4 linked regions of the Homo sapiens genome follow. The protein of the gene in region 1 purifies or fractionates together with the protein of each later gene. This does not show direct contact. Each region holds a gene or a part of one and is shown in the gene's direction. Other genes may lie near its edges.

Region 1 (8,035 bases):
CGCCCACCTCCACCTCCCAAAGTGCTGAGATTACAGGCGTGAGCCACTGCGCACGGCCAGTTTTATTTATTTGTTTTTATTATAAAGTTTTTCTTGTAGAGACAGGGTCTTGCTCTGTTGCTCAGGCTGGTCTTGAACTCCTGGCCTCAAGCGATCCTCAGCCACCCAAAGTGCTGGGGTTCCTACAGGTGTGAGCCACTATGCCTGGACCCAAGTTGCTGGTTTTAATCCCAGCTCCAGGTCACACACAGTGGCCACCCCATAAGTGGAGTGCGCGTTGCCAGGGATGCAACTGTGGATGCCAGGACAGGTTGGCAGCTTCAGTAGTCCTTACGTCTTCCACAGCTTCGGTAGTCTGTACTTCTTCCACACTGTAGAACCATCTGTGGCTCCCAGCTTCTCCCACCCACCCCGTTCTCAAGCATACCTTTCAATGTCCTTTGTGCCCCGGCCCTGCCCCTTTACTCACCTTCCTCTCCACCCTGGGGCTCTCTGAACTTCTCATGCTTCTCTGTCAAACCCAAGCTCCAAGGTTACCCCTTCCCTGGAGGCCAGGAAGGGTGCACCTGTCCGGCCTCCCCACCTAGACAAGAGTCACACAGGCCTGGCACCAGCCCTCTCCCCAGTAGCTACGTGCTGTTCTCTGAGCTTCAGTTCTCTTGATCCTAGAGGGGGTCCGAGTGCTTTCTGGGCAGACTGTGGTCATTCAAACCCTCTGAGTTCCCACCCATCTGCTGGAGGCTCCAGTTCATTCATTTGCTATATCTTTTTTTTTTTTTTTTTTTGGGATGGAGTCTCGCTCTGTTGCCCAGGCTGGAGTGCAATGGCACGATCCCGGTTCACTGCAAGCTCCACCTCCCAGGTTCAAGCGATCCTCCTGCCTCAGCCCCCCTAGTATGTGGGATTACAGGCACGTGCCACTATGCCCAGCTGGTTTTTGTATTTTCAGTAGAGACGGGGTTTCGCCATGTTGGCCAGGCTGGTCTCACACTCCTGACCTCAGGTGATCCACCCACCTCAGCCTCCCAGAGTGCTGGGACTACAGGTGTGAGCCACTGCGCCTGGCCATTGGCTAGATCTTTATTGAGGGTCTACTGTGTGCTAAGCCTATGCCAGACTTGACCTGCCCCATCTCACTGAGGCCCATAATGTGCCCCAGGAAAGGTCCTGCAGCTCCCAGGTCACAGATGGGGAGGCAGAGGCTGCAAGAGGTAAAGAATAGGTAAAAACTGAGGGGATAGCAGCACTCAGAGAGGCTGAGGCAGGAGGATCCCTCGAGCCTAGGAATCGAGACCAGCCCGGCCAACATGGCGAAACCCTGTCTCTACAAAAAAAAAAATACAAAAATTAGGCATGGTGGCACACTCCTGCAGCCCCAGCTACTCTGGAGGCTGAGGCAGGAGGATTACTTGAGCCTGGGCGGTCGAGGCTGCAGTGAGCTATGATCTTGTCACCGCTCTCCAGTCTAGGCAACAAAGCAAGACCCTGTCTCCAAAACAAAACAAAAATCATGGGCTGGGATTCAAACCCAGTTTCTCTGGTGGGTCAGCAAAGAAAATTTCAGATTCCAAAGCTTGAGGGCTGGGGGTGAGGGGAGGCAGCCCTGTCTGGGAGACAGGCAAAGTGGAGACCCAAAAGCACAGGCGTCTCCCTCCAGCCGGCCAGCAAAGGTGCTCTAGGGGACCTCCGGCCCTGCTCCTGCTGAGACCCCAACATGTACCCTCCTTTCTCACCCCGCTTGCCAGGCACCCTGGGTGAATCTGTGCTCCGTGGCAGCCTCTCCCCCTGCATGTTCCCAGGGACAGGAACCAGGGCAGGTGCTTGGTCATGGTTGGGTCTTCAGTGTCTTGCCAGGGCCTGTACACAGAAGGTGTTCTGTGGCTAATGAATGAATGAATGAGTGAGTGATGTTGAAGGCAGGGCCTGGACTGGAAGCTGCTCAGGGCTCGCTCTCTCTGCTGTCGGCACAGGCTAAGGCTAGTGATTTTAGGTTGTTCCCCTCAGCTGGGGGCGACCCCTGGCTCACTGTCTCCCCTCCTGTCCCTTGTTCCTGGCTGCAGCCCCAGAGGCTCCTCTTCTCCTCCCATCCCCGCAGGCCCCAGGTTTTCCCGACAGCTGGGGACAGTGCTGGGGTGTTGGTGGGGACCATGCCATGGTTTTCCTGTCCATACACTGCAGAGCCCTAGGAAGAAAGGCTCTGCTAGGAAACCTCCACACTGCAGACCCAACTGAGAGTTCTGGCGTTAGTACAGTGTACATGTTCCCTTCATTCCCCGAGAGGTTTTTTTCTTTTCATTTTGAGACAGGGTCTTGCTCTTGTCGCCCAGGCTGGAGTACAGTGGCTCAGTCTCGGCTCACTGCAGCCTCCACCTCCCAGGTTCAAGCAGTTCTTTCACCTCAGCCTCCCGAGTAGCTGGGATTACAGGTATCTGCCACCACCACGCCAGGCTCATTTTTGTATTTTTAGTAGAGACGGGGTTTCGCCATGTTGGCCAGGCCGGTCTCGAACTCCTGACCTCAGGTCATCCGCCTGCCTCCACCTCCCAAAGTGCTGGGATTACAGGTGTGAGTCACCACGCCTAGCGGTTTCTTGTTGTTGTTGTTTTGTTTTGTTGTTTTTGAGACAGGGTCTGGTTCTGTTGCTCTGTCCTGAGTGCAGTGGTGTGATTGTAGCTCACTGCAGCCTCAACCTCCTGGGCTCAGACGATCCTCCCACCTCTGCCTCCCAAGTAGCTGGGACCACAGGTGCGCACCAACACACCCAGCTAATTTTCTTTTCTTTTCTTTTCTTTTGAGGCGGAGTCTCACTCTGTCGCCCAGGCTGGAGTGCAGTGGTGCAATCTCGGCTCACTGCAAGCTCTGCCTCCCGGGTTCAAGCGATTCTCCTGCCTCAGCCTCCCGAGTAACTGGGATTACAGGCGCCCGCCACCACGCCCGGCTAATTTTTGTATTTTTAGTGGAGATGGGGTTTCACCATGTTGGTCAGTCTGGTCTCGAACTCCTGACCTCGTGATCCACTGTGCCCGGTCCACACCTGGCTAATTTTTTTTTTTTTTTGAGACGGAGTCTCACTCTGTCGCCCAGGCTAGAGTGCAGTGGCGCGATCTCAGCTCACTGCAACCTCCATCTCCCAGGTTCACGCCATTCTTCTGCCTCAGCCTCCCAAGTAGCTGGGACTACAGGCGCCCACCACCACACCCGGCTAATTTTTTGTATTTTTAGTAGAGACGGGGTTTCACCGTGTTAGCTAGGATGGTCTTGATCTCCTGACCTCGTGATCCACCCATTTTGGCCTCCCAAAGTGCTGGGATTACAGGTGTGAGCCACCGTGCCCGGCCACACCTGGCTAATTTTTAAAAATTTTTTGTAGAGGCCGGATATGGTGGCTCACACCTGTAATCCTAGCACTTTGGGAGGCTGAGATGGGAGGATCACCTGAGCCCAAGAGTTCCAGACCAGCCTGGGCAACATAATAAGACCCTGTCTCTGCAGAAAAGCTTTAAACAATTAGCCGGGGGTGGTGGTGCATAACTGTAGTCCCAGCTACTCGGGAGGCTGAGGTGAGAGGATGGCTTGAGCCCAGGAGGTCAAGGCTGCAGTGAGCTGTGACTGCACTCCAGCCTGGGCGACAGGTGACACCCTTTATAGAGACAGGATCTTGCTATGTTGCCCAGGCTGGTCTCGAACTCCTGGCCTCAAGTGATCCTCCTGCCTTGGCCTCCCAAAGTGCCGGAACTACGTACGGGTGTGAGCCACTGTTCCTGGCCTGGGAGGGGGTTTTGACATCCCTGTTTGACAGCTGAACCAGCTTCCCTCCTCCCCACCAGACCCCTCAGCTCCCGCTGGCTTCCATAGTGGCCCAGGTCTGGGATGCTGCTGTCCCGCGTCACCCGGCTGCCTGGCTGGGGGCGGCTGCGTGTTGGACTGAGTGTTGGCTGTGAGGCCTTGTTCTCGCCCCGTCCTGCTTCTAGAATCCTGTCCTTGCTGTTGCCTCAGCGGCTCCCTGGGGTTCACATTCCCCTTCCTGCCATGGCAAACCCATCCAGCCTGGGCTGGTGGCCTCGGCTCCCACACCAGGACTTGTGGTTTCATTGGTAAGTCGTAGTGCACGGTCATTGCAGCCAGGACCCTGGACGGGCTGGATGAGTGATGCCCGCTGGTGTGTGTGCTGCGTGGGGCCCTGGTAGGGGGAGACTTGGCTGCTGTGGGTTGGGGGTGTGGGACAGGTCAGGGCCAGACTCTGGGGTGGTCACCCCGATTCCCAGGCATCTCAAGCCCTCCGAGTTGGAATTCTGGGGACATGGCCCACGAATCTGCATTTCAGTGCCTGCCAACCTTCGGTGTCCCCCAGAGCCCGCCCTTCAGGCTTCCTGTCCCTCTAGCCTCGCTGTGTCATTTCCAGTGGGGCAGGGGTGGGCTGGGATCACTCCTGGAGCCCCGATTCCTTGGCCCCTTGGCGTCTTGATGTGGGTGGAGTTTTGGGGGCCAGCACGTGTCAAAGCAGACGCAGCACCAATGAATTGAGCTCCAGCTCCGTCTTTGAGGTCCTAGAGGCCTTCTAGCTGTGAGGTCTCCACCCAGCGCCACCGTCTGGGTTAGGGCAGGATGGAGTAAGGGGAGGGGGAGGCGCCAGTTCCCTCCCCTGCCCCGACGCACGCGTGGCTCCCAGCACCATCCTGGTTTCTGCTCAGACAGTCACACGCCCCCTTCCTTGCCACCTCCATCTCCCAAATTTGTCATCTCACCCAGACCAGACTTTCTGTGACCACAGCCTGTGAGCTCAGCGGTGGCCACGTCGGGGCAGCCTCTCCCACGTGTGACCCTCTGGGGACCCGGGGCGGCTCCCAGATCAGCAAGGGAGGACCCCATGCTGCACCCTGGCAACGCTGGCGGGCTCTGCCCTCTGCCGGGTCGGCGTGATGGGGAACAGGCTCACTTCCTGCCTGTGGGCAGGGCCAGCGGAGCCTCCATCTGTGGGTGGCACCTCCTTCCCCAGCCTTGCTGGGTCTCCACTCCCTGTGCCTCAGTTTCCCTTCCTCAAGGAGGATCTATCTAAAGCAAACACTGTGGGCTGCAGTGAGACCTGCCAGGGTGGCTGCCAGGAGCCAACGGCCTGGTCATGGCCCTCTGAGGGCCTGTGAAGCCGGGCCTGTGAAGCCAGGCCTGTTACCTTCCCCTTTCACAGTGAAGAAACAGGCATAGCAAGGTCCCCCAAGTGCCGAGGGAATCCCCAGCCCCATCCTCCAGCCTCAGGGAGGCAGCTCAGAGAGTCAGGCATGTTAGGAGAGACTCAGAAGAGCAGGCCCAACCCGATGCAGTCAGGGTGGGCTTCCTGGAGGAGGGGGACACCGGACTGTACAGAAGAATGGAGGGGACTGGGTGCAATGGAGGTGAACAGAATGCTGCGACTGGGAGGGACAGGTGTGGTGGCAGTGCAGCTGGGGCGGGAAAACTGCTGTCCTCCTCCGAGTGGGTGCACCCCCGCCACCCCTCCCAGGGTCCTCCCTACCGAGCCCCTGGGACCACCAGCCTCCAGGTCCCACGCCTTCCATCTTCCTGGCCCAGGCAGTTTCTGACTTCTTCCCCGTCAAAAGTGCTGATCCTGCTCATTTCATCTCTTGCACTGTGGGAGAGTTAGCAACACTGTTTTCCCCTCAGAGCCACCTTCTGACTGTATTGAAACATCCCTGCAGCTCCCTCTGCTTCCCCAGAGCCTGAGGGGTTGTGAGCAGTGGCTCAAAACTCCTTCACGGGCCGGGCGCAGTGGCCCACACCTGTCATCCCAGCACTTTGGGAGGCCGAGGCAGGAGGACTGCTTGAGCCCAAGAATTTGAAACCAGCCTGGGCAATATAGTGAGATCCCATCTCTACTAAAAATAAAAATAGGCCGGGCGTGGTGGCTCACGCCTGTAATCCCAGCACTTTGGGAGGCCAAGGCAGGTGGATCACCTGAGGTCAGGAGTTCAAGACCAGCCTGGCCAACATGGTGCAATCCCATCTGTACTAAAAATAAAAAAAATTAGCTGGGTGTGGTGGTGGGCGCCTGTAATCCCAGCTACTCAGGAAGCTGAGGCAGGAGAATTGTTTGAACCTAGGAGGCAGAGGTTGCAGTGAGCCGAGATGGTACCACTGCACTCCAGCCTGGGCAACAAGAGCAAAACTCCGTCTCAATAACTAATTAAGCTGGGCATGGTGGTGCCAGCTCTGGAGGCTGAGGTGGGAGGATCACTTGAGCCCAGGAGTTGAAGGCTGCAGTGAGCTATGATCACACCACTGCACTCCAGCCTGGGTAACAAGAGTGAGATAATCTCAAAAAAGGAAAAGAAAAAAAAAAAAACCATTAAGGCCCCAGGGGTGGGGTAGGGATGTCTGGGACCCCAAGAAGGCCATACCTGGTCAGCGGTTGCCTACACAATCGGTGAGGAGAGCCCTGCCTCCCACACTGACACTCATGTCCCTCACCAGGTCAGACCCCCAGCCCAGCCAACAAGAACAAAGCCACAGCAGGCCCCTCAGGGCCCACCTGGATGCCTCGGAGGCATCTGGAGTCAGGGTGCGGGCGTCTGCAGTCGGGCCGAGACCTCGGCTCCCCTTAGGCCAGGGTCTTGGTAGCCTAGGGAGGGTCATTTGGCCGGAAGAAAATTGTAGGCAGTTTCCACAATCTGAATTTCGGCTTCCCCTCCTGTTGGGCCGGGAGGTGGTGTCAGAGGGTCTCCAGTTGCTCTCTGGGCTGACACAATGGGGGCTTGAAACCATGGAAACGTCTCCTCTCTCATTTCTGTAAGATAAAAGTTCCAAGTCAAGGTGTGGGCAGGGCGGGGGGCGCCTTCAGTTTCCGGGGGCTATGGCCAGTCCTTGGCTTGTAGAGACATCACTGCAGTCTCTGTCTGTGTCTCCACAAGGCCAGCTTCTCTGTGTGTGTGTGTCTTTTTTTTTTTTTTCCTTCTTTTTTTGAGACAAGGCTTTGCTCTGTCACCCAGGCTGAAGTGCAGTGGTGTGATCATAGCTCACTGCAGCCTCCACCTCCCGGGCTCAGGTGATCCTCCCACTTCAGCCTCCTGAGTAGCTAAGACTACAGGTGTGTACCACCACACCTGGCTAATTTTTTGTTGTTGTTTGTAGTAGAGATGGGGTCCTGCTGTGTTGCCCAGGCTGGTCTCAAACTCCTGGGCTCCAGTGATCCTCCTGCCTCAGATTCCCGAAGTACTAGGATTACGGGTGTGAGCCACTGACCCTGCCACTGTGGCTCTTTTTTTTTTTTTTTTTTTGAAATGGAGTCTTGGTCTGTGGCTAGGCTGGAGTGCAGTGGCATGATGTTGGCTCACTGCACCCTCCACCTCCTGAGTTCAGGCGGTTCTGCCTCAGCCCTCCCCAGTGGCTGGGATTACAGGCGTGCGCCACCACACCTTGCTAATTGCGGCTTTTTTTTTTTTTTTTTTTTTTTTTTTTTTTTTTTTTTGAGACAGTCTCGCTCTGTCACCCAGGCTGGAGTGCAATGGTGTGCGATCTCGGCTCACTGCAGTCTCTGCCTCCCAGGTTCAAGCGATTCTTCCGCCTCAGCCTCCCGAGTACCTGGGACTACAGATGCCTGCCACCACGCCTGGCTAATTTTTTGTATTTTAGTAGAGACAGGGTTTCACCATGTTGGCCAGGCTGGTCTTGAGCCCCTGACCTCGTGATCCACCCAACTTGGCCTCCCAAAGTGCTGGGATTACAGGGGTGAGCCACTGCACCCCGCTTTTTTTTTTTTTTTAGTTGGAGTCTTGCTTTGTCGTCCAGGCTGGGGTGCAGTGGTGCAATCTTGGCTCACTGCAACCTTCGTCTCCTGGGTTCAAGTGATTCTCCTGCCTCAGCCTCCCAAGTACCTGGGACTACAGGTGCCTGCCGCTACACCCGGATGATTGCTTGTATTTTTAGTAGAGACAGGGTTTCACCATGTTGGCCAGGCTGGTTTGGAACTCCTGACCTCAAGTGATCCACCTGCCTCGGCCTCCCAAAGTGCTGGGATTACATGGGTGAGCCACGGGCCCAGCCG
Region 2 (8,035 bases), on another chromosome or scaffold:
TCCAGCCAGGCGTGTCATGGACCTGCTTTATGAACCTTTGGTGTAACCCATGATAAAGTCCTTAACCTGGGCAGGCATGTTCTTCCTGGGCAAAGTGTGGCTTCCCTGTTTGGGAGTCCATTGCACTTTAAGGTAACAGATTATTGAGTAGGACTGGATAGCTGCAATATCTAGCAGAGTGTGTTTTGGGTTTGACTCTTGGTTCTGTCATTGATTTGCTGTCAGATGTCAGATATGTAGGAAACCTTCTCTCAGCCTCAGCTGTTTGTCATTTGTATCTATCTTATATCTGAAATGGAGGTAGTTATCTAGCTTAGAAGGTTTGGGTGAGAATTAGATAGTAGAAATGAAAGATTTTTGGAAACAAATAGTGCTTATCTCAGACTATGTTCCCAGGAAACAGCCTGAGACAGAGCTTAAGTACTTAATGCTTTATTGGAAGGTGTAATTGCAGGGCAGCCAGGGTGAGGGAAAACAAAAGTGAGGTGCAGGCCTGTGCGATGGCTCATGCCTATAATCCCAGCACTTTGGGAGGTCGAGATGGATGGATTGCCTGAGGTCAGGAGTTTAAGACCAGCTGGCCAATATGGTGAAACCCCATCTCTACTAAAAATACAAAAATTAGCTGGGCATGGTGGCACACACCTGTAGTCCAAGCTACTCAGGAGGCTGAGGCAGGAGAATCCCTTGAACCTGGGAAGTGGAGGTTGCATTGAGCCAATATTGTGCCACTGCACTCCAGCCTGGGCGACAGAGCGAGACTGTCTCAAAAAAACAAAAGAAAAAAGTGAGGTATAAAGGAGGATGGGAGGTGGTGTTTTAGCAAGCTGGCTACTCTGCACAGAGATGTACTTGGTTACCCTATGAGGGCCCTTTGGTAGCCACTGGGGAGGCCAGTCTGGTACTTCAACAGAGTCTGGAGATAGTGAGAGGAGCCAGAGATTCTGGCGTGGGCCTGGATAGTCTCCTCCACTGGGCTGAGGCAAAGTAAATACCCTGGGACCTGGGAGATGGGTGAGACCAAGAGGTTGCAAGGTGGGACGTAAGATGCATCCAATATAGTGGTATATGGATTTTATCCTCAAGTGTAGTTCCCTTTTGTGGGTTAGTCTCATCCAGACTGCCAAGTCTCTGCCAAGACTATGACTGAAAACCCAACTTGGCTTTTGCATGTCAGTTTTAACAGCCTTCTCTGCTACTTCATTGTCTAGTTACTGAAGCAAGACTTTGTGGTGGTGATGGTACCCAGGTGGGGAAGTGGAAGTCAACCACTATTCATGTACCAGACTGAGAAAGTATGTGGATAGATACAGATAAACATCTTGGCTTTATTAGGTTCTTCGTGAAGGAGAATATTTTTTCACATAAAGTAGTTGTTGAAGATACGAAACCTGGCATGGTGAGATGAGGCTAGAGAGGGCAGTAGGGCCTGGTCACACACTCAAAAGGACCCTTTGGGCTAAAGAGTTTGAACTTTATCTTGACGGCAGTAGAGAGCCAAAGGAGGGCTTTGATAAACCATGCTGGCTACTTTGTAGAGCAGAGGTGGGAGGAAGGCCAGATGACATGTGGAGAGGCCAGTGTAGTGGGGGCCAGGATGCCTGTAGGGGAAGTTAGGGGTGGCTCAGATCAGGGTGATGACTGAGGCTAAGGAGAGTAGGGTACCCCCCATACTTGCCTAGGGTGCCGTGGCAGCAGCTTATAGGCCTGAATGGACATCCATGTGCTTTGGTGGCAGGGTCTCCTGGAGCCTCTGGATCCTCTTAGGCTGAACACACAGGTCCTTTCAGCCCTGTTATCCTAGAGTTGGAGGCAGCGGGGAGCCGTGTCCAGTTAGGTTTTCCCCCTTCACAGAAGGCAGGCAGGTTCTTGTTCAGTGCCAAGCAAGACCAGTTTGTTCTCAGCAAGCTCATGTTCTGTCTCTAGGCTGTTAAATACATTGTTAAAACTCAGGCTGTTGCATTTGGGTTGCAGCTGGGAGCTTGGCAGAGATTCTGCCTGATGAGGTAAGGAGAGAAGCTAAGGACGCTGCTGGTTTGCAGCTGGAAACATCTTTTCATGGCCATTTGGCCAGATTGTAAATGTCTTTTCCAAAGTTCAGGTTTGGTGGGACCTCTGGTTGTATGTCTTGGAATTGCCCTGTGTTTAGAAACAGTGCCAGTCGCCTGATGGGTGAATCACTGTTGCTGGGATGTTGGCAGGTTTTGCAGGACTTTCCTGTGGGGGTCCAAACACTAGGGCTGGCAGGGCCCGTTTGGAGTCTGTTTGAGAAGGGCCTGCTTTGTTTTCTTTACATTTTAAGCATATGATAAAATAATTTTAAAAATTGCTATAGAATTTCTTGTAGAAAGATTAGAGAAACAAGCATAAAAATAAAAAGAAATTATTTCACCAAGATATAGCCAGATGTATGACTCTTTTCTTGCATCTCTCTATATACACATATACATTAATTTTTCCTTACAAAAATGGAATTATAGAGTGCATATTATTGGGGCCCACTTTTCTCACTTAACAGTATGCTTAGATCTCTTCATGTTGATATATAGTATTCATTTTTAATATACTCCATAAAAACTCATTGTATAGAAGAAATGTAAAATCTTCTATTGTTGTAGTTTCCTAATTTGAACAAGTCTGTGGTGAAGTATTTTTTGTTGTGTTCCTGGTATGGGACAGACATTGTTCTAAACTCTGGGGATGCAGCACAGATAAAACTCAGTATTGGTTTTCTGCTCAAGATGTCACTTTGTTTTTCATAAAAGTGGGTTTGACATTGTTCACCTCCAGACTTATTCCAGTTGGATTCTGAGGGTTTCTGGGAGGGCTTTTAGCAGCACTGGACACTTTGTAGGGGCACTCAGCAGGTACACATACTTTCACCTACTCTGTCTTAAGCAAGCTGTGGGCATAGTTATGAGATGGGTTGGAGGTTGGCCTTTCCCACATTGTGGGGCACAGTCCCTCTCGGATGCTGCCTCCTCCCAATCTGACTCTAATTAGAGGACTTTTTGTACAGAGCCTTTTGAGTTAAGGGGCCCAGGCTTGGGAGAAATGGGGTAGGGCTCCAGAGTACCCCTGCCAGAGATGTCAGTGTTGATGTGGTAGTCTGGGAGCTGCTGCTTGGAGGTGCCCAGCTCTCCAGGCTAGCAGAGTTAGTTATCCCCTTCTCCCACCAGAGCAAGACTTTGCAGGCTCTTGGTAGGTAAGTCATCTGTAATTACCTGTGATTCTTTGAGGCTCTGCCCAAACCCCATCTGTGATTCTTTGAGGCTCTGCCCAAACCCTATCTGTGATTCTTTGAGGCTCTGCCTCCAGGCTGAGATTCAAGAATGGGCTCAGTCTAAGCCAGATCGCACATTCCAGAGAAATCACAGCTGGTATTCATGTAATGAAGAAACCTGGCTTTCCCTGAGTGTTGTGAGGTATGAACCGTAGATGATAGGAGCAGAATGATTTGAAAGGAATGGACAGACTTCCTCCCTGGAATTTATCTGGCCTCTAAAAAGGTATGCAACTGCAACTGGAGACACACCTGGGTAGAGATGCTGGGTTCCCCACTTCCAACCATGTCTGGTTTGGAACCTGCCTGGGCCCTGTTCTCCCACCACCCCAGCTCTGAGGAGCAGTCAGCTGGTCCCTTTCTGATCACAGATACATCCTCCCAGCTCTATGTTTTCACTGTCCCCTCCCTACATACATACAGAAGGTGCTGAGCCTGAGCCAGTCAAGCCTTTTGAGGAACAAGAAACAGACACCCAATCCCTTAGGTATAAGGGGCTTGTGTAAGCAAGAGAGAAGCCTTCTGAAATCCTGGGATAGAGAAGACAGTATAGTAAGGCCTTGGAGCAGACCTGTGGCTAGAACCAGGAGGGCCTGGACTCTGCCTCAGGGCAAGCCCAGGCTTACTCACTTTCTCTTGATGACTTGCTCTCTTCTGCTGCTCTAACTCCCTAATGGACCCCTTAGCACAATACGCCCTACCCTGCAGCAGGTTCCAGGTTGGAAGATAATTGTCCTGTGTGTCTTGGGACCCCCACACCTAGACTATGACAGGAAGACTGTCAGCTCTGCAGACATTTGGCATAGGCATGAACACATGGCGCCATTCACTTATGCTTTCCTTCTGATAGAGGATCCATTTGCAGATGGGAGTTGTGGTTGGCCTTCTCTGAGCCTAACCTGGAATCTCAATGGATTAGGATTTCTTCTGAAAGAGTAAGATGAGGAATGGTGGGTGTGCTGTGTGTCTAATCAAGTATGGCGGGCAAAAAACTGATGAACTGGCATTATCTTAGACTTAGAATTCTGTCAGATAAGGCTTATGTTTTTTTGGGAAAGCATTTGTATTTCCTTTGTTTTGCTTGCTTTGTCTTAGTGAATTTCCATTTGAGCACTCCAGTGGGGTGCTCAAAAGCAGGGCAGGAAGAAGACCGGCAGAGCTGGGGTACAGATGGGTGCTAATCCTCCAGCACAGTCTAGGCTGCATGGCTGAGCTGGGAGACGGTATCGGAGGCTTCTGTTGTGGACTGAGGTTTACTGCCAGTGGGGTTTGTCTCAGGTTGTGCCTATTTCTGGGCTGATGAGAAGACAGTAGCTGGCCCCTTTCCCATGTCAGCAGCCCAGCCTGAGGTTTTGGCCATGTGTGCCATATTCATTTTTGTATCCTGAGTGCCTAGATCAGTGCCTGGCATCTGCAGGTCTTCAGTAAATATTTGTGAATGAATGGTGACGGGCCAGTGAGAACAGTGTCTGCCAAGGAGCCTTACTACAGGAAGAACACTGTCTACCTAGGAGACTGTCTCCTCTGACTGCTCTTTCTCTGGCAGGTGCAGACTGACAAGGGTTAGTTTTATTCCTCTTCTGGCTGGCCATCTGTTGTACACCTTAGTTTGGGTGTTGGTACTCTGGAGGATATTGTGTCAAATTATCTTTCTGTTATTGTCTCTCATGTACTGTTGCCTCCTTGTGGGCAGGGACTGGTTCCCCAAAACCTGGCACTGTCCTGGCATATGTGTTGGAAGGTAAGATAGAAACAAACAGCAGTCTGTGAAATAAGAAGGAGTGGGCCAGAATCTTGGACTGACAGACCATTGGAACCCGAGCTGACTGTACCCCACTGCGATTCCGCCTTCTCATGGTACAGGTGGTTGCTGGGAGTTGAGAGGATGGGCTCTCTCCGCAGGGCACGTGACTTCCCAGAGCAGGGACCAGAATTGAGCACACATCACTGGCTGCACGCTCTTTGTTCTTTCTGCTGTTTGTCCTTTTTAGCTTCTGTGTGCTAGGCCAGGATTTTGATATGTTTGATTATCTGCATATGTGTGTACATGCCTATGTGTCTCCTCACCTAAATTAGTCTTTTTCACTTTGTTGATCCAGTGATTGTCATTGAATGCCTTTCAGACACTTCCCTCTGTGACCATGAAACTCTGGGTGTCTGCATTGCTGATGGCCTGGTTTGGTGTCCTGAGCTGTGTGCAGGCCGAATTCTTCACCTCTATTGGTACGTGCCAACAGGACTGTCGTCTCCCTGACACCTTGGCTCACATGCCACGGATGTCTCTGGCTGCAGCCTGTTCTCATTTAGAGTGGGATAGCCTTAACTACTGGTTTTGGCCAGTTCTGAGGAGAGTGGAACTGGCAGAGTTGCTGTTTTCCCCTATAAGATCCCAATGATCTGGATGTTCAGGGAGCCAGATGTCTGAATTGGGTCTTTCTTCCTGGGAAGTGCAGGCTGCACTTGGGCTCTCTGGTCTTTTTGACCACCTTGCCCATGGACCAGAGAGTGGTTCTGAGCAGCAAATCCTTTGTATCCTGAGGATCAAGCTTTTCCTATCCTTCCGACCTAAAGTTCAGAGCTTTTTATCCTGTGGTGAGCCCCCAGGATATCCATGCCCCAGTGTCATGACCAGCTATGTAACAGTCGGAGAATGAGATTTAGGGCTGCTTCTTGAGTGACATCCAGTGCACTTATCTCAAACATCCCCTTGGTGCCTCTGCCTCTTTCTTCCTGAAGTTGCGAGATAGAGCCCCATGAGTGCCTAGGCCCCCTTTAACTCCAAGTCCCCATAATCCTCAGAGAGCTGACATGTTCTTATCCCAGGGGACTTGCTTCTGTGCTGGTATTCTGTGCCCCAAGGAAGGAGGCTGGACATCCCTCATCTGTTTCTCACTGGTGTCTTTCTTCTCTCCCTTGCAGGGCACATGACTGACCTGATTTATGCAGAGAAAGAGCTGGTGCAGTCTCTGAAAGAGTACATCCTTGTGGAGGAAGCCAAGCTTTCCAAGATTAAGAGGTGTCCTAAGTCCCCAACCATCCTTAGTTGGCCTTCCTTCCCTTCTGCCCCTCAAGGAACAAGGAAGCCATCCAGGGTGCCTATAAGAGGAAACCTTTGAGAGGGTGATGTGGGGCTGGCCTGGTTACTTCATGCCAGTGCTTGAGAGGAGCTAAGTACATGGGCTAAGGAGTCACTGTTTATTTTCTATTTAAGACCTTTTCCCTTACATTGGGGGTCCCAGCTGTTATCTAGATTAAGGGGCTAGAAGTATCTGTGGGGAGTTACTGTATTCATTTTTCATTGCCTCTTGATGAAAAGGGCCCCAGAACCTGGCACCAGGGAATTCTCACTAGGAAAATTGTCACAGGTCAAGACCTATGTGGGTGGACGCATTAGTCTTCCTTTTCCTCTGGTTCCACAGCTGGGCCAACAAAATGGAAGCCTTGACTAGCAAGTCAGCTGCTGATGCTGAGGGCTACCTGGCTCACCCTGTGAATGCCTACAAACTGGTGAAGCGGCTAAACACAGACTGGCCTGCGCTGGAGGACCTTGTCCTGCAGGACTCAGCTGCAGGTGAGGGACGGTGAGCAGGTGCTTGAGTGAGCCCATATGTTTGTGTGCTCATGCCTGGGTTGTTGTGTCTGAGCCTGTCTTGGGTCTGGGTGTTGGTGGGCAAGTACATTGTGGAAACAGGACCCTGCTGGTCTCATGGCTCTCTCCCTTCTCTGTGGGGACCTGGAAGTTGGCTGGCCTTGGTTTTTAACATGTAATGATGTTCAGTTCTTTTTTTAGCGTCTTTTTTTTAGTGTCTGTCTTTTCTTATTTTTTGCTAATGACATTTTTCCAATTATACTTTAGTGATACATGTTTATAGAAAAGTCGGAAAACACAAAAACAAGAGAATTATAATTCTTAATCCAGTTGCCCAGTGGTGAGCATTATTAAAATTGTAGTTTTTCTACCTATGCATATACATTTAAAAAATGGAACTATACATACATACCAGGGCATGCAAACTCAGTTGCTTGGAGGGACAATGAATTTACAAGTGTCAAGTGGGCTGGATGGTGGGGCCAGGGCAAGTTGGGGAGCATAGGTCTGATCTAAATTCATTCCTATTCATATGTTTTACAAACAAAGCATATCTGTTGGTAGATTTGTGACAGAAGAAAAAATTCTGTGAATTTCTCAGCTTCTTTATATGCCATTCAATGTTCTTCTGCAACATGATTTTAATGGCTGGATGGTGATTACCTGTCAGATGGTGATAATCTGTCATACTGATAATACTGTCAAATGGGTCAAGTCATTGGATATGGGATTTTTTCTGAATTATCAGCACCTTTTTACATATTTCTTGGTGTATACTTCTGATTACTTTTTTAGGGTAAGTTCCTAGAAGTGATATTACCGATGAGAGTGTGAACTTTTTAAAAGCTTTAAACTATACTTGGTGCTTTTATTGTGATAATACTTTTTATGCCCTAATACTTTTCTGTCAATAAGAAGAGATGGTACGGTGGGCCTGGAGGTGGGCTCTCCTAACTCCTAGCCCTGGGTTTAGTCCCCTGGACTCACTGACTTTTTTTTTTTTTTTTTTTTTTTTTGAGACTGAGTCTCACTCTGTCACCAGGCTGGAGTGTAGTGGCGGGATCTCGGCTCACTGCAACCTCTGCCTCCGGGTTCAAGCAATTCTTCTGCCTCAGCCTCCTGACTAGCTGGGACTATAGGCACATGCCACCATGCCCAGCTAA
Region 3 (8,035 bases), on another chromosome or scaffold:
TTATCTGCAAAACCATGGTCATACTGCATTACTTACAATTTACATACAGATGTGTCAGAGATGCTAGAAGCAGACACCTGGTCACACTGTACATGACTGTTAAACTTTTAAAGGGTGGGTGATATCTTATTTGCTTTGGGGTTTCTGGCACTGAGCACAAGGTGGATACAGAAAAAATAGCTTTGAGAGAGCAATAACAATTCACAAATCACCTTCAACAGATAAAACACTGGTATCTAAAGTGATATAGTCATTCAAGATTCCACTGACATTTCTTACTCTAATGAATATTTTCCTGGAAGTCATGAGCAGTATTTATTTCTGGGTCACCTAGCCTATTTTTCCCTCTCAAAAAACATGTTTTGGAAAAGGAAACTTCCTGCTTTTCTAGTTCTGTCACAGTGATTGTAGGAGCCCTTGCTCTCCCTGAATCCAACATATCAAGCAGAAAGCAATAGGGTCTCTCATGACACACCCAGGTCTTGCTATAGTATGCCAGATGAAGGGATGCTTTCTGGAGGCTGCCCTGTCATCTTTTAAATCAGCTGTAACCAGCTGGCAGATGTACCCAGGGGTGGGGTTGATGTGCTTCCTGACAGGGACTCCTTCCTCCTTTCCTCCTGCGCTCCCTCTGCCCCACTTTTACTTACCTCACCTTGGAAATCATTTTCCCTGGGCTACAAGAAAGAGCAGCATCTGGTCTCCTGGCACCATTGTCTGGCATTTTATGGTACTTACAGTTCTCTACACATACAGTGTTGCTCAGAAGTTCTCTGAACCCTTGGTCAAGCTGCTGTCTTTGCCTGGGACTTCCTCCCAGCCCACCTGCATCCCACTGCCGTGGCTAAATCTACAAAACTGAGCCCAACATCGGGACCTGAGGAAGGCTTTCAGGAGGAAGTGATGCCTGAAGTCAGTGCCCTTCATCTGATTCCCACAACACCCAGGAAGCATGCACCTCCCTTTAGACTTCACATACCACACACTTTCCTGTGTCCCCTCCCACTAGACTAAACTCTGGGATGCTCCCGGAAGGAGACCCTACCAGATCCACTCCTGTTTCCAGTACGTCTGAACATAGTGACTCGGTCATAGTAAATGCCCAATAAATATTTACTCAACTAGCAGAAACCAAGGTGGGCACATCCCTCTCCTGTTCTATGTTCCCTAATATGGATGGGTGTTTCTCGGCAGAGCAACTACTTCTACTTGTCCAGGAGTCTGGGGCAGAAAAGCTGAGTCTGTTCACATCGGAATGAGTTTGATTCTTTCACTCTGTTTTGGGCCAGGCAAGGGTACGGCTCAGACCCCATTGCTTGAACTCACTGATTCTTAGCTTGCCAATTTGGCAGAGTACCTCTAAGTCCAGTTAGCTTTTGTATAATGCCACAGGATAGTAAAATATTTATTTTATAATCCTCTGACTAATCAGATGCTACCTAATACTTGATTCTAGAAGAGGCAAAAGTACACTAGAAGACTTTGTTTTCATGAAAGACTTAGATTCATGAAAAATCTATTGAAGAAATTTTCAATTGAGGTATTTGTGTATATTGATTAATTGTGTTTTGTTTCAAATTGGGAAAGACAGTTGTGGTCTAATTTTTGCCAGTCTCTGATGTGGGACACCAGTGTTGCATAGGAATGACATTTGAGAACCTCTGCTCTGGTTATGCAAAATTACAGTTAAATACACCACTTATTAGCAATAAGTTATTTTAGTTCATAAAAATACTCAACATTTTTATTTTTGATTTTGACTAATGGTGTTTGCTTCCTGAAATAGGCTCATAACTCGACATTACTTATTGAAGAGAGTAACTATTTGCCATCTTTTTCCTTCTCAGGCTGTGAGGTTGAGATTCTGGGTGTCAGACCCACCTACTGCCTAGAATATAAAAATGTCCCAACGGATATCAATTTTGCCAATGCAGTCAGCGATGCTCTTGACTCCTTCAAGTAAGTGTCCCAAACTCTAGCCACACCATTTTCTTCCTTGTTTCCAGGACTGATCATGGATCCTAAAGTGAATTAAGAGGGCTTTGTGGAGATGAAATAATGTCAGAGAGTTGGTGAGAGTCTTGCATAGTGATTGTTAACTGCTAGTAGGGAGTAATTGTGAGCAAGTGATTTCAGGCAGGGGCAATCTCTGGAAATGTTGAATTGAGAGCAGGAAAATCCCTAAGGGTTTGAATCTCCTTTTTTATGTTGTTAAACAACGGAGAAACAATATAAATGTCATCATTTCCCTAAGCATTAGTCAGTGAACAATTGTGTCTCTGAAGGTACTAATCAGTATTTGGCAAAAAGGAAGGATATGTGGTCAAATAAGTTTGGGAAAATTGCCTACCCTACCCCCTTCTTGTACCCATGTACAAAATGCATGGGTATATTAGAACACAAAATCTGTTTTTTCCCTCCCACATGGAACCATGACACACAATTTGAAAAATGTAGGAATTAGTAATGCTCTCTTGTATAGCACACAAGAGTCTGTCAAGGACACTGATCAAGACAGTTCAGGACAAAGCCTGAAGTCAGTCTCAGAAATCTCTGGAAGTGGAAGTCAAGATGGGAGCCCAAGTGGGAGTTTGCATTAAGTAGAGATCAGCAACCGAGAGGTTACAGATGCTGGGGGCTTTTGAGTTTCCAGGAGTGGACTTGAGGTCACTGTGGACACTGAATGGGTTTCCTGTGTGCGTCAGGCAGAAGACCCACCATAATCAGAGCAAAGAGGCTGGGGACAGGACCTTCATCCCCCCAAGAAAAGGAGCCTGGTTTCAAGCTGGGCATATCCGAGAACCAACATACCCAGGCACAGTGTACAGAGCACTAGCACGAGCCACATGAAAGGGCCTGTCCCTAAAACTGCCTCAGATACAGAGCTGACCAATCATAGATTTTCTTCTTGCCACGCCCTTCCGATGCCATGGTGAGCAGCAGCCACCCCCACAGAGCTGTGAAAGCAGAAAACAGCACCCTGCCTTCACTGCTTCTTAGAATGATTCCACTTCCACGAAACCTATCAAGAGGGTCCAGGGAGGTGGGGTTCATAAAGGTTCATGCTCTCATTGACAGGTCGGAGAGAAAACAGGTTTAAAACACATAGAAATGGAGAAATAATTGCCCGTGAGTGCTGGAGAACCACACAAGGATGAGCCGGTATATTGCGCTGCAGTCTAGTTTTGTGCGAGTGAAGCAGAATAGCACAGCACGTGTAGCAGATGAGTGGGGCTGGCACTTGGACATTGCTCCATGTCTAACCAGTGCTGTTTCCAACATATCCAGAATGCCAGCCATCCCCACAGGCCATGGCTGTGCCAAATATGAAATTTCGGGTTAGAGTTGTCATACAGATACCTCCAAATAACCCAACAGTCTGTTTGGCAATGTCATCCTTTTTGCATTCATCTTATCTTAACAGCTGATGGATTGTCACTCTGTACCACCCGGTGATTCACAGGTGGGTGAGCACAGAGCACACAGCCATGAGAATCCCAGGTTGGCACTGGCCTACTAAGCAGTGCCAGTGCAGGTTGGCACCGGCCAGTCTAAGCAGACTTCCCTGTCCTGAGAGACACCAGCATGCAGCGGGGAATAAGTGCTGGGCTCTGTTTCCTCTAGAGAAGCTATAGAAATGCATCTTTACCTTGGAGAATATTTAGGAATGGGGAAGGTTCTGGTGGTGGTGGTGGTGGTGGTGGTGGTGGTGGTGTATGAGTGTGTGTCTACCATAGGTATTGGGTTCCACCAGGAAGAAAGGGCTACAAAGAACCGGAAGCCCAGGAAAGGGTCCCCAGCTAGGCTGCCACCTAATGTGCCCTGGCATTACCATACTGCCCAGCTCCACGTATTTAAATTGTGGTCTATGTAGATGGCCTTGAGCTCCATGGGTTGGCATTCACATGGTCTGCAATAAGAATGATGCCCTGGAAGCAGTGAAGGCCTGGGTCGGATGGAAACCAGGTCAGTGTAATTGTCTCATGGGGTCTTCATATTGCCAAAGTTAACAGGGCCACCAGAAACAGCCCCTTTGGGTAGTAGGTGGAAAGATGGAGACCCACTACCTCTAAAGCTAGGAAGCTCTTGACATGTGAGAAAGAAAAGAATAATAATAGGCTGGATGATACTGCCTGTGGAAGACAGTGAGATGACTTGGGCCTCCCCTGAAGACACAGGAAGCCCCTCCTTCAGCCAACCTGTGTGTTATTATTAGAACATGTCTCATCACCTTCTTACAAAGAATAATAAAGGCCTGAAAGTTGTGGGTCAACATTTTTCTTTGAAAGAAATCTAACCTTTGTCTCCTTCAGGAATGAGGTGAGTGAAGAAGATGTCCAGTCTAGAACAGTCTAGACCAGTCAAGAGCACTTTGCCTGTAGCAGCTTGTCCATGCAATCATGTGGCTCAAAGGAATCATTAAGTCTCTTGGTATGTGTGTCTAGCAAAGATGTAGGCTTATTGGTCTGTCCATCAGAGACCCTTGAAAGAGGAGCATGTCTAGAATGCCACAGCTCACCTCTTGACTTCTGTTCAGCTCTACTGCAAATTCCTAACTATAATTTGAGGAACACTTGGAGTTTTCATACATGAGTGCCCAAACATGCACACACATTTCTCCAAGTCACTACAAGACTCACAGAGTGTGTTTTTTAATCCACTTTGCTATTAACTTGAGAGGCAGAGAGAATGGAACCCAGGATAGATGGGCTTTGACAGAAAGCAGGAGAGGCTGTTAAGATCTTGAACATAGAGGTCTGCTCAGGGACATTTCAGCAGAGGATCTATGTCAGCCTGTGGTAGGAAAGAGAATCCCTCGCCCAAGTTTGATTCAGGCATTCCTTCCAGTGCTCATAACGCATTACTGACCCCAGACATATCCTTGTGAAATGCTACCTTTGAATTTGGACAACTTCTAGAATAGGGAAAAGGAGGAGGGAAGGGAATTAGTGCTTTAACAGCCATTGGCTAGTATTGTGTCAATGGGCTTGATATCCAGTAACCCACTTGGTTCTCATGTCCGTGGTATTGTGTAGGCATTGCTCTCCCCACCTTACAAAAGAGGCCACTGGCTCTCTGAAGGTTAAATACTTCTTGGACCTCACAAGCCAGCCAGTGGTGGAGCAAGAGCCCAGCTCTTTCCACAGCGGCTTAGGGCTCAGACTCTGGAGGCCTCCTGCCTTGGGGACACGGTGCCTGAGAACCACTCCAGGGTCAACTCCTCAGTCCTCTACCCTGATCTCTGCCAGCTCACACCTCTAAGACACCCTGAAATTGAGACAGCGACAGGGAGTCCAGACGCGCCTCTTTGCAAGTGTTCTCTTTGGGGCCATCCTAAGGCCTGGGGTTCTGCAGCCTGCAGCCCAGGCACCGGAGCCATGTGCCTCCCACCACACATGGGCAGTCTGCAGGCAGTGCCCCCCACACACGGCCCTTTTTCCTGGCTGAAAAGGAAGCAGGGTTTGTGATCTGCATCACTTACTCCCATCCTTCTGGAAGTCCGATTTGCAGGATATTCGTGGTTCAGTGGGCAGGAAAAGGTGCATGGTGCTAAAGCTGAAATGAGCCTTGAATGGCTCATGGGGTTGGTGGAGGAGAGCAGGGGGTCACAGTGGGCCGGACAACTGCTTCCAGGCTTGTAGAGCAGACTCACTGTGCAGCTTCACAAAAGTGTCAGTCAGGAAACAACTTGGCTGCCGGAACAGTGGGCACAGCCATAGGCTGTGTATAGATATGGTCCTTTGTCAAGCTCCAGGCTACTGAAGACAGCTCTAAAGGACTGCCTTCAGGATCCCAGAGCCTCAGTGGTGCCTGGACTAATGAAGGAATGGATGACACAACTCTTTCCACGGGCCACCAGGAAGCCAGCTCCCCTGTCCTGGCCTGGACCCTCCTCCCTGTAGAGTACAGGGAAGAAGGAGCAGGAATCAGGCTGGGGCTAGGAGACTGGCTCCTCATGCCTGCTCAGCCACATACTCAGGAAAAGCGATCTAGGGCCACCTGGAAGGAGGAGAGAAATGGGAGGCATTTCTTCCCCTCCCCTCCCTTTTACTATGTGTCAAGTGCTTTATACACATCAGCTTGTTTAATACACCATGTTACCCTTTGAGTAGTGTATCAGTTCGTTCTCTTGCTGCTAATAAAGACATACCTAAGACTGGGTAATTTGTAAAGGGAAGAGATTTAATTGACTCGCAGTTCTACAGGGCTGGGGAGGCCTCAGGAAACTTACAATCATGGCAGAAGGGAAAGCAGACGTGTCCTTCTTCACATGGCAGCAACAAGGAGAAGTGCCAAGCAAAAGGGGGGAAATCCCTTTATAAAACCATCAGATCTCATGGGAACTCACTCACGATCATGAGAATAGCAATATCATGAGAATAGCCCCCATGCTCCAATCACCTCCCACTGGATCCCTCCCACAACACATGGGGACTATGGGAGCTACAATTCAAGATGAGATTTGGGTGGGGACACAGCCAAACCATATCAAGTAGGTTTTTCAGATGGGAAAACGGAGGCTTGGAGATAATCTTGCCATTTATCTGAGGCCTCGAGGTTAGTTAGAAGAGAAGCCAGAGTTTGATCCCGAATTTGTCTAGTTCCAATGACCCTGTCAAAAGAGAATTTTCAAAATTAAGACTTGTCATATGCTCAGCACATCTGGGTATGAGGAATATGCCAAGGTTCAACATAGTTTCTTGCTGAGGGGAACCAGGAGCATGACAAAGTTGCTTATAAGGAGTAAATGAGACACACACACACACACACACACACACACACACACACACACACACACACACACACCAAGAAACAGAAGGATGGAGAATGATGAGTGATAATTATTGTTTGATGCAGATATGCTTAATAATATAGAGGATAATCAAACCATAATGTTAGAGCTGCTTTCTCCATCAGACAAAAATAATTTTCATCTTATCAGTTTCCTACAAGCTAACAGCTACGTTTCCGGAGTCTGAACTCCAATCAGTAGTTCAGTCTGGTGACTCAAGCAAGCTTATTAGACAGTGCTCACCATGGCACTGAGAAGACAGGCAATCATACTGTAGGCTTTATTTCTAAGTTTTGGATCATTTTTCTTAACAGTCAGCCACTTTAGTAAGAAAAATGGAAAGAACATTAAGAACTTTTTACATGGCAAAGAAATCAGGACAGAATCATAAGGTGATGGGAGACTCAGGTGTCCCTGAAACCCCAGGGCTAGGAACCCCTTGCAGCTCTCAGGTGACTGTGCTGGGGGCCACATGTCCTTCTAGAATGGTTCCTGGACCTTAGAGCTGTCAATGGCCAGTAGTAGGTGGGCAGGCATGACTACTCGTCACTCCTCACCCAAACAATTCATTGCAAATGAGCTGACCTGGGATGGAAACCAGATCCCTGTGGAAAACAGCTGGCAAGCAAGCATGTGTCAGCTAAACTCCAGACAGGCAAGAGGTCTCAGCCCTTGAAGACATAGGGTCCTAATGAGTCAATGAAATGTCAACGTATCATCCTTTCACAAAAGACATGTGTATAATCCCTGAATCACAGGCATCACAAATCCAGGATTCCCAGCATCTGGGGTTGACAGCTTCCTGACCAAAAGCCACCAGGTAAATTGCCACACATAATGGATGATGTGGAGGTTTGTGAATAGAGTAATAGCCTTAAGGAAACCAGGACAGGAGTGCTGCACTAAGGAGAGGTATCTAACATGAAGAGACCTAGAATTAGTTCATTCGTTAAACTTTAATGCAATGGTAAACTTTATTCATGAAAACTCCTCACTATAGTAAGTCACCACTGAGTTTAATCGGATTTTTCCCTACATGTAAGCCCACTCTGGAAGTGTGGACACCTAAACAGATGCCATACTGTGTGAACAGGCACATCTGAAATGCTAAATGTGCACGTACCTAAAGCAATGAAATGCTGAGGCTTATCCAAAGGACAGATTTTATGGAAGCTTCACTATGTTCAAAGACTGCGAATTCTATGTTCAAAGATTGCAAAGAATTGCTCAGGACCAGCAATT
Region 4 (7,153 bases), on another chromosome or scaffold:
GGGCCAGGGACTGTCACTCTTGAAAGACGTATTGATTAAAAACAAGGAAACACGCGTAGAAGGGCAAGTCAGACCCTGGCGCTGGGCAATCTTCGGCGTGGCCTGCCCCTGCCCCTGCCACCTGCCACCAGGGGCCTCATCTGCCTCCTGGGAGCACAGTGGTCCAAGGCAGATCTGAGGGGCCACGGCAGCCGAGAAGCTCGGGCTGGAGGCTTCACTTAAGGGCGATGACGCTGCCCGCTGGCCGCCCACCTGGACGGGACCTTGGACAGTCACCTCTGAACCCAGACAGTTTCCTCCCGTATAAAATAGGAGGCCGTTCTTGACCACTGAGGTGCTTCCAGAGCTAGTGTTCAAGGCCCACACTCAGACCTGATCCTAAATTACACCAAACGCTAAGAGTCCAGGTCCACTGAGTTAAAAGGCAGAAAGCAGCCCCAGGAAAGAAGCTGGGCAAGGTGGGGGCCTCCTGAAATGCATCAAAGGAAGATGCCAAGCCTCTCTCGCAGAGGTGTGTGCTGGGGGACCCGTCCAGGGGCAGGCCGGCCATGCACTGCGGCGCAGGGTGGGCATTGGCAGGGAGTGTGGCTCTGTGGCCACAAGCAGTGTGGCTGCCGTGTGCGGTGGTGGGAGTGAGAGGGGGCAGCAGGCCTCATCCCATGGCCTCTCCCCGCAGATCCAGGAAATGACAGCCGGGGTCAGTGAGGAGCAGCACAGCCATGGCCTGGACGACATGCAGCTGCACCAGCTGGCCCTGCACCCAGCGCCCACCTCACTCAGCCATACCTTCCACCGCGCCCTGGACTGCAGGCTGGCAGGCCCCTGCGAGACCAGGGCCACTCTCCCCAGCAAGAGGTCCAGCAACTGTCTCGCCCTGGACCTGTTCGGAGAGGCTCCACCACAGGAGTTTGTGGTGTAGGCACCACCCACCCAGCAGTACCGTCCGCACCGCCAGGCTCAGCCCCTGCCCACCCCACTTCCACATGGCCCTCGTCCCTTCCTGCCCGCCAGATGCTGCCTGCACTTCCGCAGCCAGCACGCTCCACAGGTTCACCTGTAAGAGGTGTGGAGCTGGCTCTGACATCAACCTGGGAGGTAACAAACAGGTCCCGCACCTCATGCCTGTCTGCCATACACCCGGGAGCTCTTTCCCTCAGGGTCTCAGGGAGCCAGTTCAAGGTCTGGCTGTCAAGTGTCCAGAGAGCCATGGTGTTGGCCCCTGAGGCAGCCTGTCACCCATCCTAATCTGGGAGAGAAGGTGACACAGCTGGGCCCAGACCCTGGAGAGACAGCTCTGCAGTTTCCCACACTGTCAGCTCCCCAAGAGACAGTCCTGATGGGCACAGGCTGCCAGAGCTCCCAAGCCGGAGTTCACAGTCATCACTGTGCAGGACCCAGGTTCCTCCCAGACCTGAACCCCTCTCTGCAACTCCTGTTTGCAAGCGCTGGGCCTGCCAGACAGAGGCCCCTCTTGTGGTGCAAGCCCAGCTCTGTCACCTGAGATCCAGCCAGAGACCCTCCTCCACCATCCACAGTCAATGGCTGTGCTTTCCCTTCCAAGCCAGGGCTTCCAAAGACCCCACTGCCCCGGAGCTGAAGCCGACTCTGCTCCCATCTCAGCCATGAGGCCTCAGGACCCACTCTGCTCACAGGTGGCTTCCTTAAGCCATTGCCCTGGCTGGGGTTGGGCTGGTGCAGCCCAGCTGGCGGAGGGGCGAAGCTTTGGTGACAGACGGAGAGTGGGGGACTAGCTGTGCATGGCACCTGCTCTGATCCGGTGGGCTCCACGGGTAGTGCGACCTCGGTTCTGTGGGCTCTGGAAGGCCACCAGGGTAGGGTCTCCCCAGGGCTCCTCCCCCTGCACAACACTCCTGCACACGTGCAAACCTGCTGTCCTCTGCATTTAGAGGAATGGCCCGTGCATCCCTGCTAGTCTCAGGCCCATCCCAGAGCACTGAGAGGCCACAATCGTTCAGCCCTGTGCCCTGAACACCACTGCCCCCTTCACTGTCTGTGTGTGGTGAAGACCACGCCACACCACCCTCCAGCTCACTGGAGACAAGCATGAGCTTGAGCCCCATGGCCTGGTGCAGGGCTGCGTGCATTGAGGCCGCCTCTTTGACGGGTCCATCCAGGGGGACCCTCTCCTTTCTGTGAAAGGGAATCGTGTGTGTGCCCCAGGCACGTGTAATAAAGAACCCGAGCAGATGCCTCCTGCTTGAACCAGGACCAGCCTGCCTGGGGGGCTGGTGAGATGCCGGCTGTAACTCACTCAGGGGCATCGGCCACAGAAGGCTGCGTTCTGTAGATGGCCACAAGCCCCAGTGCTGCCGAGGGCAAGACTGCCCACAATTCCTGTGCGGCAGGGGAGGTGCGCCTAGTGCTGGCTCAGATGTGAGCATGTGGGCACTTCCCAAAGCCATTCCCATTAGTACAAGATGATTGATTTGCCCCGCTCCGGGGCAATGACTATCTTCTTCCTTTGAAGAAACTTGGAAGCAAGAGCCCAGTCCCATGGACCATGAGGGAAGGTACACACCAGTGTTGGGGAGACACAGCAGGTGGTGTCCACCATGAAGCAGGGTCTGAGCCAAGACCTACATGCACACATGCACACATCCACATGCATGCACACACATACATGCACACACGCACACATCTGCACACAGATGCACACGCATGCACACACACACATGCACACATCCATACATGCACACTCCCCATGTCCAGGCTTCCCCTGCCAGTCACCTTCGCCACACGCCATAGACCCCAGGGGCAGCAAAGGCCGGGCCAGCCCACCCCTAACTTGTGGAAGCATCAGTGAAGCTGGCCCGGCGCCTTGTGTCCTGGCAGAGGCGAGGCAGCCATGGCCCCTGGCTGACCCGAGAAGCTTCTCTGGCCCCACTGGGGATTCCTATTTCTGTCCTTCCTCTGGGCCTTGTGGACAGACATGGAGAATTATGCCAGATGCCTGTTAACTACCGGGTAGGGCTGCTCCAAAGACTCTAATCTCTGGTGTTCAGGGTATGTGGAGAGGACAATTAGAGGCCCGCTGCCCTGAGACTTGCCCAAGAGGGGACGGCCAGGCAGGCCACATGAAGCCCATGTGGGCTACCAGCTCAGACACACCCAGCCGGGGCCGGGGCAGACTCCCCTAAGGCTTGAGCCTCAGCTTTGCTCACCGCCCCTCCCCACAGCCCCCTTCCACGTCACCCACACCTGGAGGGGCAGGAGCGGAGCTGGAAGCAGAAGGCCATCCTGGGAGGGGGCTCCTTCCCAGACAGAAAGCAGCAGAGAGCGGGGCTGCGGGAAGTCGGGGAAGCCAACCTTTCTTTTTGCACAGATTGAGATCAGAGGTCTTTTAGGCAATACGGCTATTTTCCAGAAAAATGGACACCGACTGGTAGGGACAGGGATGTTTCCTAAGAAGGAGGGTGGGGGGCAGGGCTGGGGGTGGCCTGCAAACAGCAGAAGCCGCTGTGTACAGGGGGGCTTGTGGCCTTCAGGTGGCATGAGGCAGGCCGGTGGGGGAGGGGCACAGGGTAAAGTCCCCAATCCCTGTCTTACCCTGTCAGTGGAGAGGAAAAGAAAACCACCTGTCCCAGTCCCTGTGGACCCCCAAGGAGCAGGCCAAGGACCTCCAGCATCACAGCCTCGCATGAGCCCGGCTGGGGTGGTCAGTCCTGTGGCCCGGGCCAGGTCAGCGGTCAAGCTGGCAGGTCCAGACTCGCAAGAACGACCCAGAGAGCTTGTTCAGGCTGGGTTTCTCAGCCCCCCACTGCGTCTGCTTCTGTGGGTCTCGCTGGGCCCCGGAACCTGCATTGCTGCTGCGGGGGTCTGGGTCTGAGGGCGCAGCTCTCCCTGCTGGGTGGGGTGTGGGAGGCGGCAGACCCTGCTCCTGGGGGCAGTTGGTCTGGAGTGGTGACAGGGTGGCCCTGGGCAGGGTGTGGCCGGTTCCCTCTTGCCTGTGTTGAAGCATGGACTCCTCTGGGCCCTCAGCCATCAGCCCAGCCTCCCTCACGGAAGATGGAGAATTCCAGACAAAGCTCATCCTTCCTCCAGGAAAGCCTGCTCCATCTGCAGTAATTGACGGCCTGAGAAGCTCTGCTCTTGGGCTGAACCCCAAGCAGGAGGAGGAGGCCGGGGTCCTCAGGTGCCCATCTGGGAGGCCCGGGGCAGCCAGCAACTGCCTGTGTGTCTGGGATCTCACAGGAGAGGTGGTTCCCAAGCCGAGCATCAGCCCGTCGTGGCCCATGGACTCTGGGTTCCCCAGGCGGGGGAAATGTGCCAGAGCCACGGGGAAAGCTGAGCTCTGCGGCCCTGCGAGTGCATTCACAAAGGTTTATCAGTTTGTAAAACTTGCAGAAAAAGCCGTCCGTGTTTGGGACAGGCGGCCCCTTCCACTCAGGGTTCATCCGTCACGCTCCTTTCGCCTTGAGGGGCACTGAGGGCCCTGTGGGTGTGTGGGGCCCGCGTAGGGGAGGCTGAACTGGACACACACTTGGCTCGGTCTGCTGGGAGACGTTTCGGGGTTCCCAGTCATGTCGTCTCTACCTGTAGGAGCAGCAGGGAGTCTCAGGACAGGATGGCCAGGGCCAGAGGTCACCTGGTGAGGCGGACATGTACTCCCAACCTGGGAGGTGTGGGGACTGGAAGAGAAACAGAGCTGGCAGTGGGAGGCTGGACGTGGTAGGCAATGCCGGTCCTGCAGCCGGGCCCATGACCGTTCTCACGGCGGCGAGCTGTGATGGGGAGGCTGCCTTCCAGGTGCCAAGGTTAGAAAACAAATCCGGGGCAGCCCTGCCGGGAGAAAGCTGGTATTCTACAAAGGCGCGTGAAGAGGTGAACACGCAGTGGGGAAAATGGCGCGGGTTAATTGTTTATTAATCACAGGCAGCTCACCAATAAAACCGTCACCAAATATTGTGTTACTGTGTTTTTCAGCTTTTTAAACTTTGTGATGTGGTGGTTTTTTAATGTTTCTGTATTTAGATTTATTTTCATACTTTAGAATTTGTAATCTTATCTTTTGCCCTGAAGGAGGGCTCCCCATCACCATCTAACCATGGAAGTTTCAGGCCTCAAAACGGGGCCCAGGGTGAGGACTCCTCTGATCTCAGAACCTTGGGTCACACAGCGGCTGCCATTCCCTGCTCACATCCCCTGGCTACGGATGAGGCCCCCGGGCCACTGGGCACAGGCTGGGGCTCCCTCCCGGCTCGCCGCCGGCCCATGCCTGGTTCTCCAGCCGCCCCAGGGTGGCAGTGTTCATCCTGAGTCCCCTCCTGGCTCTGCCCTGGCATCTGTGCTCAGGTGACCAGCCAGGCCTCCCGCTGGCAGGGGTGTGGTTCTCTCCATTCAGCCACTGCTGCTGTCACAAACCAGTGCACGCAGCAGGAACTGGACGTCACCGTCACCAAGTGGGGACCTGTTCGCCGCACCCTCTGTTGTCTGTCCTTGGACATCAGGGCCATTGTCCGCCCACAGCCCTGGACATCCACGCTGTTGGGGCGGCGGCAGGGCCTGGCGCAGTGGGAGAAGAGGAAGAAGCATGTCCTCAGAGCCAGATGCAGGAGTGTGCCCTGTGGGGTGCGGGCCAGGCTCCCTCCTGAGCGGACATGGGAACACGTAACAGTGGGAACAGGCCGGCCTCCAATGGGGGCCTCTGCAGGAGGTGGGCTGGGAGGAGGACGCGCCTCAGGAGCCTCCGGGATGCTCTTTATGGCCAGGCACGGTGCTTCACACCTGTAATCTCAACACTTTGGGAGGCCAAGGTGAGCGGATCACTTGAGACCAGGAGTTTGAGACCAGCCTGGGCAACCTGGCAAAACCCCATCTCTACAAAAAATATAGAAATAAAATTAGCCGGGCATGGTGGCGCCTGTGGTCCCAGCTACTCGGGAGGCTGAGGTGGGAGAATCACTTGAGCCCAGGAGGTCAAGGCTGCAGTGAGCTGAGATCATGCCACTGCACTGCAGCCTGGGCGATGCAGCAAGACCCTGTCTCAAAAAAAAAACCAAAATGCTCTTTGTTCTCTGAGGAAGGGGCTGCCCAGCAGAAGGTGGTGGGAGGGCATGAGGCTTTGGCAGCCCTGACAGTGCATGGGTGGAGTGCCCACCTGTGGGCTGGGGTGCAGGTCTGGGAGGCCGGCACTGTCCCCCTCGGTGGCAGGTGTGTGAAGTGAGGCATCCAGTGGGGGTCCGGGGCCGCCTCCCCGCAGCCTGTCCTTGTGTTTTGCTTCTCACATGTGATTCCTGGGAGCAGGTGCCCTGGGCTCCCAGAGAGGCTGCAGGACACACACCAGCCCCGGCGTGTCCACTGCACTGTGTCTTCCCTCTGGTCACTACAACAGATCTTCATAGGCCGTGTGGCCTCACTCTGCCCACTCCTCATGATTCTGGAGGCTGGAAGTCCAGGATCGAGGTGCCGGCCAGTTCCATTCCTGGTCCAGGCCCCCTCCCTGGCCGCTACGTCTTCTCAGGGCGGAAGGGGCTTGCGAGCTCCCAGGGCCCCCCTTACAAAGGCACTAATCCCACCCGTGAGCCTCCATCCTCACAACCTCACCGGCTCCCACAGGCACCCCCTCCTAACACCATGGCCTTGCTGGTGAGGATTCCCACACAGACGTCGGGGGGCGCACTCAGCCCACCCTGCATTACACGCTGGGACACATCCGGCTCATCAGTCTCCATCCCGGTCTTGGGATCTTCAAGGCAGGAGCCTCCGGCCTTGACTGCAGTTTCCTCGGTGCCAAAGCAAGACCCCGGTACAGGAGGCAGCCAATAAATGGGCACAGAACAGGTGAAAGAGGGAGGGAGGGCCAGCGGATTGGTGCTCTGTGCACCTCAGTGGGCAGGGCTGGCTTGCTCTGGCTGTGCTAACTGTATACACCTCCTTGTCCACCCAGGCTGAGCCACAGTCCACATGGCTGTGATGGAGCTGAAGCCCCTGCTGAGGGGCAGCTGGCGTCCGGCCACGCCCACCCCACATTGTTCTGGCCCCCCCCACCCCATCCCGGGGCTTGCCCGAGGAGCATGGCTGAAACTACAGAACGTCCCTAGCACTTCAGGGAAACAGATGTAAAATATCCGTGGGTTTTGGCCAAGCTCCACCAAGAAAGGAGAAGGTCCAGGGAGTTATGAGACCCCCAGGG

Evidence for each region.
Region 2: the proteins of MEX3D (region 1) and P4HA2 purify together in Homo sapiens (co-immunoprecipitation; one large-scale study listed by IntAct). This does not show direct contact.
Region 3: the proteins of MEX3D (region 1) and ENPP6 purify together in Homo sapiens (co-immunoprecipitation; one large-scale study listed by IntAct). This does not show direct contact.
Region 4: the proteins of MEX3D (region 1) and FRMD1 purify together in Homo sapiens (co-immunoprecipitation; one large-scale study listed by IntAct). This does not show direct contact.

What each region holds. Positions count from the first base shown.
Region 1 is NC_000019.10:1,557,283-1,565,317, reverse strand, and holds part of MEX3D (RNA-binding protein MEX3D), read left to right. Parts: intron 1-8,035.
Region 2 is NC_000005.10:132,216,016-132,224,050, reverse strand, and holds part of P4HA2 (prolyl 4-hydroxylase subunit alpha-2 isoform 2 precursor), read left to right. Parts: intron 1-5,406; 5' UTR 5,407-5,424; coding exon 5,425-5,506; intron 5,507-6,132; exon of another isoform or gene 6,133-6,202; coding exon 6,203-6,299; intron 6,300-6,702; coding exon 6,703-6,854; intron 6,855-8,035. UniProt on the Homo sapiens protein: Catalyzes the post-translational formation of 4-hydroxyproline in -Xaa-Pro-Gly- sequences in collagens and other proteins.
Region 3 is NC_000004.12:184,118,085-184,126,119, reverse strand, and holds part of ENPP6 (glycerophosphocholine cholinephosphodiesterase ENPP6 precursor), read left to right. Parts: intron 1-1,847; coding exon 1,848-1,959; intron 1,960-8,035. UniProt on the Homo sapiens protein: Choline-specific glycerophosphodiesterase that hydrolyzes glycerophosphocholine (GPC) and lysophosphatidylcholine (LPC) and contributes to supplying choline to the cells.
Region 4 is NC_000006.12:168,050,863-168,058,015, reverse strand, and holds the end of FRMD1 (FERM domain-containing protein 1), read left to right. Parts: intron 1-292; exon of another isoform or gene 293-511; intron 512-676; coding exon 677-919; 3' UTR 920-4,921; downstream 4,922-7,153.